Linked DNA regions of Homo sapiens. The protein of the gene in region 2 interacts with the protein of the main gene of each other region in a biochemical or structural test. Each region holds a gene or a part of one and is shown on either strand. Other genes may lie near its edges.

Evidence for each region. Proteins that work in one complex are often made in the same cells at the same time.
Region 1: the proteins of ZHX1 (region 2) and NFYA form a complex in vitro, tested with the Homo sapiens proteins (2 studies listed by BioGRID).

Annotation. Positions count from the first base shown.
Region 1 is NC_000006.12:41,096,968-41,102,929, reverse strand, and holds the end of NFYA (nuclear transcription factor Y subunit alpha), read right to left. Parts: intron 5,574-5,962; coding exon 5,520-5,573; 3' UTR 527-5,519; downstream 1-526. UniProt on the Homo sapiens protein: Component of the sequence-specific heterotrimeric transcription factor (NF-Y) which specifically recognizes a 5'-CCAAT-3' box motif found in the promoters of its target genes.
Region 2 is NC_000008.11:123,264,278-123,271,309, forward strand, and holds part of ZHX1 (zinc fingers and homeoboxes protein 1), read right to left. Parts: intron 3,110-7,032; 5' UTR 3,017-3,109; coding exon of another isoform or gene 2,996-3,016; intron 2,469-2,995; exon of another isoform or gene 2,365-2,468; intron 1-2,364. Other genes in the region: ZHX1-C8orf76 (zinc fingers and homeoboxes protein 1), read right to left, coding at 2,996-3,016. UniProt on the Homo sapiens protein: Acts as a transcriptional repressor. Increases DNMT3B-mediated repressive transcriptional activity when DNMT3B is tethered to DNA. May link molecule between DNMT3B and other co-repressor proteins.

The DNA.
Region 1 (5,962 bases), on a different chromosome or scaffold from region 2:
TACCCAGAAGTTGCTGGTATTAGAGTACATACACGATATAGAATGTTTATCTTCCCCTTCATCCAAACCTATAAGAAAAAGCAAACGACCTTCCATGTGTTCCTTAAGGATAAGAGGTAAGTCAAATAATCAAATTCTTAACGGAGATGCCTCAAAGTAATTATTCTGGTGAATCTCAGAATGATGGACGGAAGCATACAGGGCACTGTCAGTAAAGGATGAGAATGTTACGTAAGTACTAAAAGGTATAAGGTCAGAGTAATTTCTGTTGGGTAGGCCTAACTAAAAAGTTCAAGAGTGGGTTCTTGCCCTGCCTGCACCTATTACAGTCCATGTCACAGGGTAGGTACTCAAAACATGGGTACTACATAAATGAGTTTTTTCCAGATACTGGATATCTGGCAAATATCTAAAAGCTTAATACATGGCAGAAAATAAGAAAACACCTATTCCTTCCTCACAGGATCAAAATATAATAATAAAAAGATGTTTTATAAATTTTGTCTGAATACACACTTGAGATACGTTATTGTTAGAAGAGAATACTTTATTTTGAAATAAAATACAAATGTGCAAAGGAAATTAGCTCCTCCTGCCCCCCCTTTGAACAATGAGTCAATAGAATGTGAGACTGGGTAGATTAGCAGATAATAGGCAAAGGTCTAGCTTTTCAGTGGCAACTTGAAGAAACCAAAGATGAATGATGCTAAAGGAATGACCCTTTGGTACCTGTTTTAAAGTACTTCTGGCCCCCTTCTTTTATAAACCCCCAGGAGCCCAGCACCACACCTTGTTACCCTACAATGATCACTCACGCTCCACGATGTCACTAATGTAATAACTGAAGATATGGGCCAGTTTGTCCATGTCACGTTCCGACTTGTAGGTCAGGGTGAACCTGTCCATTAATGCTGTAAACCCTGACCAACAAAGCAGAAATTACGATGTTAACTCCAAATCCTAAACTTTTTGGCCCCTTTCTCCCCACACATCAGGCCAGTGTAAAGGAAACAGATCCCTTCAAGCTGAGTAATTCCTTTATCCATTAACATGGTGTAACTTAGAAACTACTAAGGGCCAGGTTGGTTGCTGCTGCCACTGGGAATCCAAAGGACCACCCTCTCTGCTTCCAAGAGCTGGAGATGGTGCCCTTTTCATCTGGAGCCAGCTCTTTCCCCTACTCTCTTAGGCTGCCTAGCTATGGGAAACAATAGGATCCCTCCTCATGTCTGGCTAGAGAACCACTCACACAGTGAGGACAGGCACCTGGTATTACCCATCTTCATATCCCTGACACAGAGTAAGTATTTGTTAAATGAACGACTCGCGGAGTGGCTGCTAGATAGCTACGGCCAGAACAACGGCGGGCATATACTTATGACGCCAAGAACGAATTAACTGAACGAATAAAATAATTGAAACAGAACGCTTAATAGAAAATGCTCGGGGTTGGGAAAAACGGGTTCAAAGCCCGGGGCGTGGTCCTGTAAAAATCCTTTCCTCTGAGTTTCAATTTCATCATCTTTGGGGTGAGCTCAAGGACTGAGCCGGTTCATCCCAAAAGATGTCCTCCCACGCTAAAACGAAGATACTCAAAGTTTCCTAAGGAAGCCGCAGCACGAAGTTAAACTGTGCCTTAGCTCGCGGGAGGCTAGGCCTGTAACCGTCGAGGCCTCCAGGGGCTTAGACCCAACGGCCGCCTCTCCCGCAGGCCAGGAGACTTAAGTGCAAGTGCCGGCCGTCGCCCTCACCCGTCACATGGACGCCTAGGAGGACGCCCTGGGCCGTGGCGAGCTCGGGTTCCCATCCCCGAGGCTTCCGAAAGACCAGTAGGTCGGGAAGCAGCGCCGCCAAGCGGGCCTCCACAGGCCACAGAGGCGGCGTCGCATGCCGCTCGCCGGTCACCATGGCTGCCCGCCTAGGTACCGGAAACAGGGCCCAGCCGCGTAGCAGCCAATCCGCCTAGCAGGCTCTATTGGAGGCCTGCCGCCGATCAATCCGCGCAGGCTTCCTTGGGACAACGCCAATCGGAAGCGACTTCAGTCGCCGCCCCACCACCTTCCCACATTCTTAGCGGGGCCTACTTCCCCGGGGAGAAGGGGCTGGAGGTGCGGCGGTCTGCGCTTTCAAAGGAGCAAAGCTGTCTTTTCTACTGGAAACGGGGGAGGCGAAGACGCTCCTACGATAAAGCCGTTGGTGTGAGATAAATATCGAGAGGTCTTTCCCTCATACCACAGAGTAGAATCTTGGGTCATCTCTGAATTTGGTAAGGACAGGTTCCACTGGCATAAATCTAAGCCAAACTCAAGCACAGTTTGACTAAAGCTATCAAATACTGTCAGTGCTTTTCCTTCATTGTGGAGAGTTTCTCCTCTCTCATCTGCCAGGGCAGGTCTACTGCTCTCATCATTGAGTGCTTCCTCGGGCTGTTTGTCTCTTGTGTGTTGATAATGGCATATCGGAGGCTTCTAGTCTTTGTTGCTTAGATTCCCAGCGACCGTAAGGTAAAACAGTAACAAGGTGAGCATGCTGTGGATTTTTAACAATCAGAAAAGTACTTTTGTTTTGGTCTTCTGCCAAAACAAAATCTAACAAAACGTAAATAGTACATCTTCACTACCTGAAATTCTACAATACTTAAGGCTGTTTTTGTGATAACGGCTAATTTTCCTCATGGAATTACTTCATCACATTTTGATAAACACTTTCAGTAGTAGCATCAAATGTATGATCAGCCTGCAGGTGACAGAAAAAATCTCCTCAACAGGGTGGAAGGGCCAAAAGGGAAGAAATTAAGGGGAGATAAAGCTAAGAGGCTCAGACATTACAAGTTTGATACTGTTTACAGAGACACCGTCCATGCAGACAAGTCTTGTCGGGGGAGATCAAAATTTCAACACTGGAAACACAAACTAGAACCCAGGAGTTGCAGATTCCTCAAAAGTCACATTACTTTTCGGTTATTTTTATAAATTTATTTTAAAAAATAACAATTGCAATGACATTAATGATCGATCACCTGTACGCCCCCATACTGCTGGGGGAAAAACCTTCGATATAGTTGAATCCCAAAGAAAAATCAAGACATTATTATCAGGCACCCTATAGCCACAAAATGCTCTGTTGGTCCAGTGGCATCGACACTGACATGTTCAATGTACCAGTGCAGTTAAAATATATACACTTAAAATTATCCTGCAAAAAAAAAAAAAAGCACTCAAGTTGCATAACTAGGCATTAAACCAATTATTCATTCATCCATTCACTCTTTCTCCATCTGTAAAGTTATCACTACAGTCACAAATAAAAATGAATAAAAGAACTAGTATCAAAGAAAAAATCCAAATGTCAATACCCTGCCCCCACTTTGTGGGCTACTATGGTGTGCCAAAGTGACCACAAGAAAAGGGTCATGAGCTATTTGAAATGCAATGACAAAATGACAACTGAAGCATTTCAAACAAAATTCAAAGTCATCTCCCCCCAAATAAAAAATTCAGCAACAAGGCTGGCATTACTATGTACAAACTTACAGACACAAATAAATAGCATCTTCTAACTGTTGGCAGCTTAAGCACTCAAAGTTAGGTCTGAGTAATTTCTTTCTGAACTCTGCATCTTAGACTCCTAAATTAACCAAGGAATATAAATTCCTCATTGTTAGTAATCTATTCTCTGAAAAACTTGGGACTTACTGAATAACATTAATATCCCAAACTCTTGTAGAGCTAGAAGTTTCTAGTGAGCTTACCAAAGGATCAGTCCTTTGACATCTGGAAGCCAGGAGCGATTACCAGATCCCTGGGACTAGGAATATTTCACTTCCTGTTTCCTTTGCATAGCTCTGTACCTCTATTTCTATCATTACAATCATCTCTCTTTGTGGTGTTTTTAGAGGGCTTAATTTCTGTCTTAATACAGTTAAGCTGAAGTCAAAGAAGAACCAATTTTTATTCTTGGTATTTAACCCCCAATGTTCCTCGGAATTATTGGGTTTTCCTTGTTTCCAGAGAAGGCAGCCAACTCTTCTGAAATATCATCTTAGTTCTCTCAGGGTTCAACATCTAAAAGAGAAATAGATTTCTGAGGCACAACCCGTTCTGGGAACAGTGGCCCAGTTCCTGACCCTGCAGGCATGTTTCTTTCAGTCTGCAGTTTATTCTCACAGTATGGATGCAATGAGAAAACCTTTCTGCACAAGGCCTATGGAGAAAACATGAAAACTGGCACCAAAGAATCAGCTGCCATGGGAAGAATGAAAATGCTCGCTTTCTAGGGCCAGCATTGTGCTGCAGGAGTGAAGCCAACATCCACCTCAAGCTTTAGTGGGTAACTTGGACTCTGTCCAGGACAGTGTGACTGACCAGTGCTTTCCAGAAATTGTCAAGGATCAAATCTCAGGCTTCTTCCTTTCAGTGCTTGTTAAAGGTTCTAGAGTAAATGTGAATTACTCTCTTCATCTTAATGATCCATTCCAGGTATCCATCCACTGGAGAATCGTGCTCTATGATAACATACGGGTATACATGCTCTCTCTCTCTCTTCCTCTCCCCCACTCTCTCCCACTAGGCTGAAACACATGAATCTTTTAGTTCCCCAAATGCTGTCACAAAGTCTATGATTGAAAATCTCTAGTTTGGCCCTTCCTTTAGGAGTATTACAAATCTCCTCAGTGCTTCAGCAAAGAAGTTGTTGAATAGTCTTGTTCTCTACTTAGGAAAGGCAGTTTCAAGGTTTAATAACCCTCTACATTGTCTTAGAAGTAGCCACAGCAAGTACGATGGTCCAGATGACCAGTCAACAGAGGGACAAGCAGGCCACAACTTTTCAAAGCTAGAAAAAGAGATTCGGCAATGTATATTTTTAGTGCTTGAGTCTTTTATCATTCTATCCCCAGAATTAGCTTTTTCTTGGCTAGAGTCCAGAAATATCAACCTACCATCTGGGCAGAGAGGAATTCTTATTATTACCACAGATTGGAAGAATGTATCTCAGGAATTTATTGTTTCCGTATCACAAGATAGAACTTCCTTGCCTGGAAGCCATCTCTGAATACAAAGCGTCCATTCAGTTAGTCAGTGTGAGATTCCCCCACCAGAGGGATAAATGCTGTCTAGATTCCATGGGAAGGAGTGGGCTGCTGCTTTCCTGATTGCAGTTTTGGTTGAGAAGGTTGTTCTTCCCTGCTGAGATGGCTGGCTGACTTCACCAGTCAAGGTAAGTGCTTTGTGTACTGCTGGGGTGGCATGTGTCTCCTTGCATCATCCGAATCCATGAAATGTCAATGTCATCAACAGTCTGAAATAGGTCCTGACTGAAAGAGTAAGACAAAGGCTTGCAACTTCAATTTGCCAGGCATCGCTGCAATTGTAATACTGAGCCACTTATTAAAAACTAAGTGGTTTCTGTCCTGTAGTAAAGGGCAGAATGTGATCATCAATGTCCCATTGGAAGAGTTGATCAATTTCCTGGAACAGTGAGAAACATGACCTTGATCAGCTCCATCACATGGCGTGGGGTTAGGACACTCGGATGATCTGTGTCATTGCTTCTTCATCGGCTTGGTTTGGATCCTAGAGACAAAGATGACATGATGATTAAAGTCCTTTGCAAAAGCAACAGGAACTCATGGCTCTCACTACTTATCCCCCCAAGAGAATACACATAACTTTACCAAGTAAATCAAAGGCTTGTAATACATCTTAAGTCTGCATACATGGCTTAAAGTGTAGCCCCATTAGGAAAGAAGAGACAATAAACCTTATTCTTAAAATAATTTAAAGTCTGGCCTGCACTCCATGGTGAAACACTGCAGGGCTGTTAGTGTATCTCTTTCCTAAGAACCTTGTGTTGTTCTCTATACTTAAGGGTTAAGAGTATTCAGATTCAGGTGTCTAAGGAAAAGACCCAGAGAAACCATGTCATGCTGTATTTTTGTCACTGTTTTTTGATCATCATTTAA
Region 2 (7,032 bases):
ACTTTAACAGTGTTCTACTACATTTTAAAAAAGATTAAAAATAAGTCCTCAATGTAATACACTATAAGAAGTTAGTGGATTGTTTCAAATTCTATGCTTACCCACTACTAAAAAAAAGTCTAAAATATTTTATAATTAAACAGAGCCACAACTGCACTGAATTTGCAAGCTTCTGGTTTTTCTGGCTGTTTGGACTTCAAATTAAATGATTAACAGATAACAATATGTTGGCCTGGTTAGCCACAAAAGCATGCTATTTGGTAAGATTTTACATGAATAAAAACAAACTTTTTTTTCTTGAGACGGAGTCCCACTCTGTTGCCCAGGCTGGAGTGCACTGGGGCAATCTCGGCTCACTGCAACCGCCGCCTCCCAGGTTCAAGCAATTCTCTGCCTCAGCCTCCCAAGTAGTTGGGATTACAGGCGCCCGCCACCACGCCTGGCTAATTTTTGTATTTTTTTTAGTAGAGACGGGGTTTCACCATCTTGTCCAGGCTGGTCTTGAACTCCTGACATCATAATCCACCCGCCTCGGCCTCCCAAAGTGCTGGGATTACAGGCATGACCCACTGTGCCTGGCCACAAACTTTGTTTTTTACAACAATTCTGGGTCAAATAAGAGCATTTAGGGCTGAGTGAGGTGGCTCACGCATGTAATCCCAGCACTTTGGGAGGCCGAGGCGGGTGGATCACCTGAGGTCAGGAGTTTGAGACCAGCCTGGCCAACATGGTGAAACCCTGTCTCTACTAAAAATACAAAAATTAGCCCGGCGTCGTGGCGTGCACTTATAATTCCAGCTACTCGGGAGGTTGAGGCAGGAGAATCGCTTGAACCTGGGAGAAGAAGGTTGCAGTAAGCCGAGATTGCGCCATTGCACTCCAGCCTGGATGATAAGAGCACAACTCTGTCTCAAAAAAAAAAAAAAAAGAGCATTTAGAAGATACTATAGTTTTTAGGGATCATGTTAATTTTGATGTAGCATCAAAAATAAAACTGTTCTTAGGTAGCAAAAATATACACACTGAGAATCCCTTGGAATCTGCATTTGTATATATACCGAGAATGTTTGGGACTCTGTATTCTATTTAGTTTCACTTCTCTCTGAGTCAAGAGTTCTGTTTAGCCAGCTGAAAATACTTTAACACGTTTGTATTCAACTAGAAGTTACAAATCCACAAAAATCACGGAATGCCTAAACAGTACAAACAAAGAATTAGGTCATATTAAAACAAAAGGTATCCACCGTGTTAAAAAAAATAAAGGTGATTTTATACAATTAAGGTATTTTCAAAGTTAAAATGTAAAAATAAAAATAAAATGTTAAAACATTTAGAAACATCAAGTTCTTAAAAAATTAAATTAGGAATTTGACAACACAAATTTACATCCACAGCAAATGTTTTTAAAGATTGCTGGTAACCTACAATCATGACCTGAGAGATAAGTCTCAAGAAAACTGTAAAAAATAGTCTCAAGACAATAGAAAATCAAGTATTAAAGTGAATATACAAACAGGAATAAAAATAATAAAAGTGAAAGCATCTAAGAAATTGTGGTCAAAGATAATCAAATGTCAGAGGATACCTTTGCTAATGCTAATTAAGGCTGAAAGGTAAGAAACCCTATCCTCTCTATCTGTTTTTTTCCATCTGAGAAAGCAGACCTTAATGACACTAAAGATTAAAAGAAGAATCCAAATCGGACAGATTTTTTTCTGGCAAGCTCTGACCACAGATTTGCGGGAGTGAAATGTCTTTTTGAAAGGTCTCTCCCTAGGACACTAACATCCTAGTTTTCTCCCCACAGCTGGCAGGTAGGTAGGTAAGTACGTAATACATTGAAAGTGATATATAAACTAGCAGTATCATGAAATCTCTTATCTTGTGAAGAGTTTGTGAATGTGATCGAAAAGTCATTTTCTACTGAAAACAATTTTTCCCTACTTTTCTCAAGAAGGTGTGTTAAGTCTTTTACAGCCAGTCTAACACAAGAATGCTATTCTCAGTTCCAAGTGAGATTACCTTTGAAGACTGAAAAACCATTCATCTGGTCATTATCTTCCCTATTTATAATGGTAAGGTAACTGTTACCCACTTCACTGAGGATATAATGATTTGATTTTTCAAAATACTTTGAAAGATAATAGTAATCAGTATTGGTAATATCAACTTATAAGAACTCTGTTATCCATTTTTTAAAAATGAAAACTGCCACATTAATGTTTATCAAATCTTTCCTAGTATTTTCTGGAATCATCTAAAATAACAATAGGACAAATGCTTCTTATAAAAGCCAATTAATTAATCAGATAAAATATAAAAACAATTATGTACAAATACATTCAAATATATATATATTTTTTACGTCACACAGGTAATGTGCCAGTGTCATAACAAGGTTTGAGAAAGGCACATTTCACACATAAGCATGAAAACCCAATCATCACACTTAAGAACTACAAAAGGATCAATATTCAAATATTTAAGTTTTGGTATGGTTAATATAAGTAAGAGTATTTAATTAATATCCTGACTCTTATAATTAACTATTATTAGTAGCCTACGTTTTGAAAATACAGTTTCAGAATTTGTTCTTGTACATCCTGAAGCATTTTTCTGGATATAGGCAAAAGCATAGCAAAATTTCTAGATCAATTTCCCCATACCAAAGGTACATTTTGTCTTGTTTACCTCTGTTATCACAGCACTTGGTATAGTGCCTGACACAGCAGATTTTATCAAATACTAATTTTAAAATCAATTATAAATATACAAGATTTATTATGAAGTATGATGCCGTCTCCTTTTAAATTAAAGCAGTCCTATACTTATAGCTCTTAAAATTTGAAAGTATATTAAAAAAAAGTGTTAAGCATATGTCTGCTGCTTTTTAAGGAAAGCTTTTAAAAACTTTAGACAAATATAGTATCATGGGATCTAAAGTGAGTACATTCAGTATCTGAGTTTTACCATACCAAAACAATGAAACACATACTTGCCACAGCTTCCTTAGCATTCTGTTCTTTGAAATGGAAGGGTATCCCTTCTAGTTAGATGTTTAGCTCAGGCCATCATTACCAACAGGTCCAAAGCAGCAGTCTGTCTTCTCCTACAAAAAAGTCATATTTTATTATTCTAGATATAATTTAGCCTTAGTCAGGAAATTTTTACAATTTAATGCCTTAGCTTTTAATAAATAAATGTAATTTTGAAAAAAAAAGTTTATTCCCTCATCAAAACTTTAAAAGAACCATTTAAATACCAATCCTAATATTGGTAGTAAACACAAAAACTACACATTAAAAAAACTCTATTTATATCATATAGAACAACTAAATAACTATTAGACCATTTTGAATAAAATTTCAAAACGTGAATATATGCCGTCTCTAGTGTGAAAATTGAGATGCAGAAATTGGGAGTTCTTTAAAATGAGTATACCGGCCGGGCGCGGTGGCTCACACCTGTAATCCCAGCACTTCGGGAGGCCAAGGCCGGCGGATCACCTGAGGTTGGGAGTTTGAGACCAGTCTGACCAACAAGGAGAAACCCCGTCTCTACTAAAAATACAAAATTAGCTGGGCGTGGTGGCGCATGCCTGTAATCCCAGCTACTCGGGAAGCTGAGGCAGGAGAATCGCTTGAACCGGGGAGGCAGAGGTTGCAGTGAGCCGAGATTGCGCCATTGCACCCCAGTCTGGGCAACAAGAGCGAAACTCTGACTCTAAATAAATAAATAAATAAATAAGTATACAAAGGTTATGAAGACAATTTAGTTAAACTAAGAAATGGGAGTAGTTGTATATGTTTATGTGTTAGTACATAAACCTAGTGATATTTGTATCCTAATTTATTATGTTAATCAGAATGGAGAGGATTATTAATGCTGACAACACAAGCCAAAACAAGTTAAACAAACTAGTAGTACTTGATCTACAAACATGGGGTTATCTAACAAAATGACTGGTGTTTAGCCATGTCGTTTTTGCCTGAAAGCTACTACCAAATGGCTTTACAATCAGTGCACTGTGAAGTATTAACATCATGCAATCAAATAAACAGAAAATAATTCTCTGAAAATTCAATTACTGTCCAAATATGTTGTTGTATATAATCTAGATCAGTTAAACCCATCAGAAAAGTTTAATAAAGCTACAATTGCTTTTCTTACTAGAACAGTCATAAATAACACTTTTGAAGGGTTAAAGCATTTTGGTTGTATTCTTTTTTTTTTGAGATGGAGTCTCACTGTGTCGCCCAGCTGGAGTGCAGTGGCGCAATATCGAATCACTGCAATCTCCGACTCCCTGGTTCAAGCGATTCTCCTGCCTCAGCCTCCCGAGTAGCTGGGATTACAGGCACACGCCACCACACCCAACTAATTTTTGTATTTTTAGTAGAGACAGGGTTTCACCATGTTGGCCAGGATGGTCTCTATCTCCTGAGCTCAAGTGATCTGCCCGCCTTGGCCTCCCAAAGTGCTGGGATTACAGGCATGATCCCTAACCGGCCTTTTGTTGTATTCTTTAAGCACTATTCTCTGTAAACTATAATGAATAAATATTAAGGAAGAGTATTTTCCCAATTAACCTTATTTTTTTATTCCTGCTACTATTACATACAAGTTTATGAAGAAACTTCTCACATCAAGAAATAATGTAAATACACCAGTCCTTTAGTAAAATACCTCTAGGTTAGGTTAAAACTTAGGCTGAATAAGTACACTATTTTCATGAAAAGCAAAAGAGCATTTTCCTGGTAGGCCCAGTGGAGCATCTTATTATCTCTGTAGCCTGGGACTCTACAGTTTCATTTCCTGGTATCTCCTTGTTCCGCCACTCGTTAGCCATCAATCTACAGGATGTGGACTAGAAGAGAAGATAGGAAACAGCTGCCAAAGAGGGAAGGTTATTTTCCAAAATGAATTATTAATACTTTAGGAATCTGGTAACCTACTTCAATCCATTCTTAAAATCACACAGTAATTGCAAGATATTTTACCGAATGAGTCTCTTGAGAAGAGCTGCCAAGACATGTAAAGGCACCAGGATACCAGAGGAGCAAAAATGAGCTCATCAGTGCTTTTGAATGAAAATCCTAGTTGCCTGATGTTATTTAAGTTCCTGATACTGGGATTACTTTAGAACATTTCTATCTAATTCAAAGTATTTTTCTTAATTTAGTATGAGTGAATTCCAAAAATTAAAGAGCTCATCTCAGCTATGTACATTATATAATAAAACAGAACAAGCTGTTCTGGTAGTAGATGGATTACAAAAAAAGACTGAGAGCTTGGAATTTGGAACAGACTGGGTTCAAATACAGCATGCCACTTACTAGCTGTGTGACTTTAGAAAAATGGCTTAGCCTATCTGTGCCTCAGCCCCATCATCTATAAATGGGACTGGTAATATTAATAGGATACTATTTACTTAATAGGGTTGTTGTGAGGATTGGAATAGGTAACACGTGTAAAGTTTCTGGAATATTCCTTGGTACTTAGAACACAATGAATGTTAGCAAAGAAATCTTTCTTTAAAATTTGCTAACTGTTGACAAGTGATAAAATACTTTAAGAATCTGGGTAACAACCAACCAACAAAATTTATTTGCCATTTCATACCTCTGAGCATATTAAATCATGCTGGAACAAGTTGGCTTCAAAAGGCAGATACTAATCAATCAAATTTAACCTCTCCCCCCACAAACTTTTTCTGACCTTAGCTTCAAAATAAATCATTACTGTATGACATATTTAAGGGGTATTTCATAGAACTAGCAAACATCTGATATAAGTAATTTTATCATAGTAACGAGGAGAAATTGTTCTCATGATCTTCCCCACTCCCAAGTATAGCCCATGTCTAGCAAAATTTTAACAAACTTCTTTTTAAGAATATTGATGGTAAAAGAGAATAAACTTAGAAGAAAAATATAATTATTAGTTTAGTGCTTAGAAATATCAGAACCTCCTATCTTCTTTCATTTCTCACTAAAAAACAAAAAAGGAAAAGACTTTTAAGAAGGGGAAAAAGGAAGTTAGAAATCTTGAGAAATAGGAAATCACCAAAATTTAATGAAAGAGTTATTTTATTTACAATAATATATGATATGGCTATGACTTCGATATTTTAATTTTGTTAAGATAAATTCTGATAATATTTTTTAAAATCTAAAACTAAGAACTGAAAATTAAAATCTTGCATTAAAAATGATTTATTTGGCTGAGTGCAGTGGCTCACACCTGTAATCCCAGCATGTTGGGAGGCCAAGGCAGAAGGATTGCTTGAGGCCAGGAGTTTGAGACCAGCTAGGGCAACACAGTAAGACCCTATCTCTACAAAAAAAAAAATTAAAAATTAGCCGGGCGTGGGTGACACATGACTGTAGTCCTAGCTACTCAAGAGGCTGAGGAGAAAGGATCGCTTGAGCACAGGAGTTTGAGGGTGCAGTGAGCCATGATCATGCCACTGCACTCCAGCCTGGGCCACAGAATGAGACCCCGTCTCAAAAAAAAAAAAAAAAAAATGTATTCAACTGGCTCCCTTGAATAAACATAATTCTTAAACTGCTCATATATACTTATTTTACAAAGTATATCATCACATTTGTTTAGACCAAAGGTATACAGTCTTACCTCTTAAGTTGGAAACTGATTGTATAAAATGCCAAGATTAAGTATCTTTTAAGATCAAAACCTGGCAACTACATACAAAGTTACATATTAATATTTACTTTAAGAATATCCTGTATAAAATGCAGATCTCCAAAATGTAAACTCAAATGTATATTCTGATTAATAATCTAAGTCAGCAACTTTAGTCATGCAAATCTGGTTATTGATGACTACAAATATATCAGAGCAACAAGGATACAATAAAATTTATCAATAATAGTATAGAAACATTGGCTCTTATTCTAAAGATAGTATCAGTTTTAAAAACAGAACTATAACTTACTTTTGAAACTACGTAGGATTATTTAAAAGGATTTTAAGTTCAAAAAATTTAGTCTTAACAGTAAATGTGCTTAT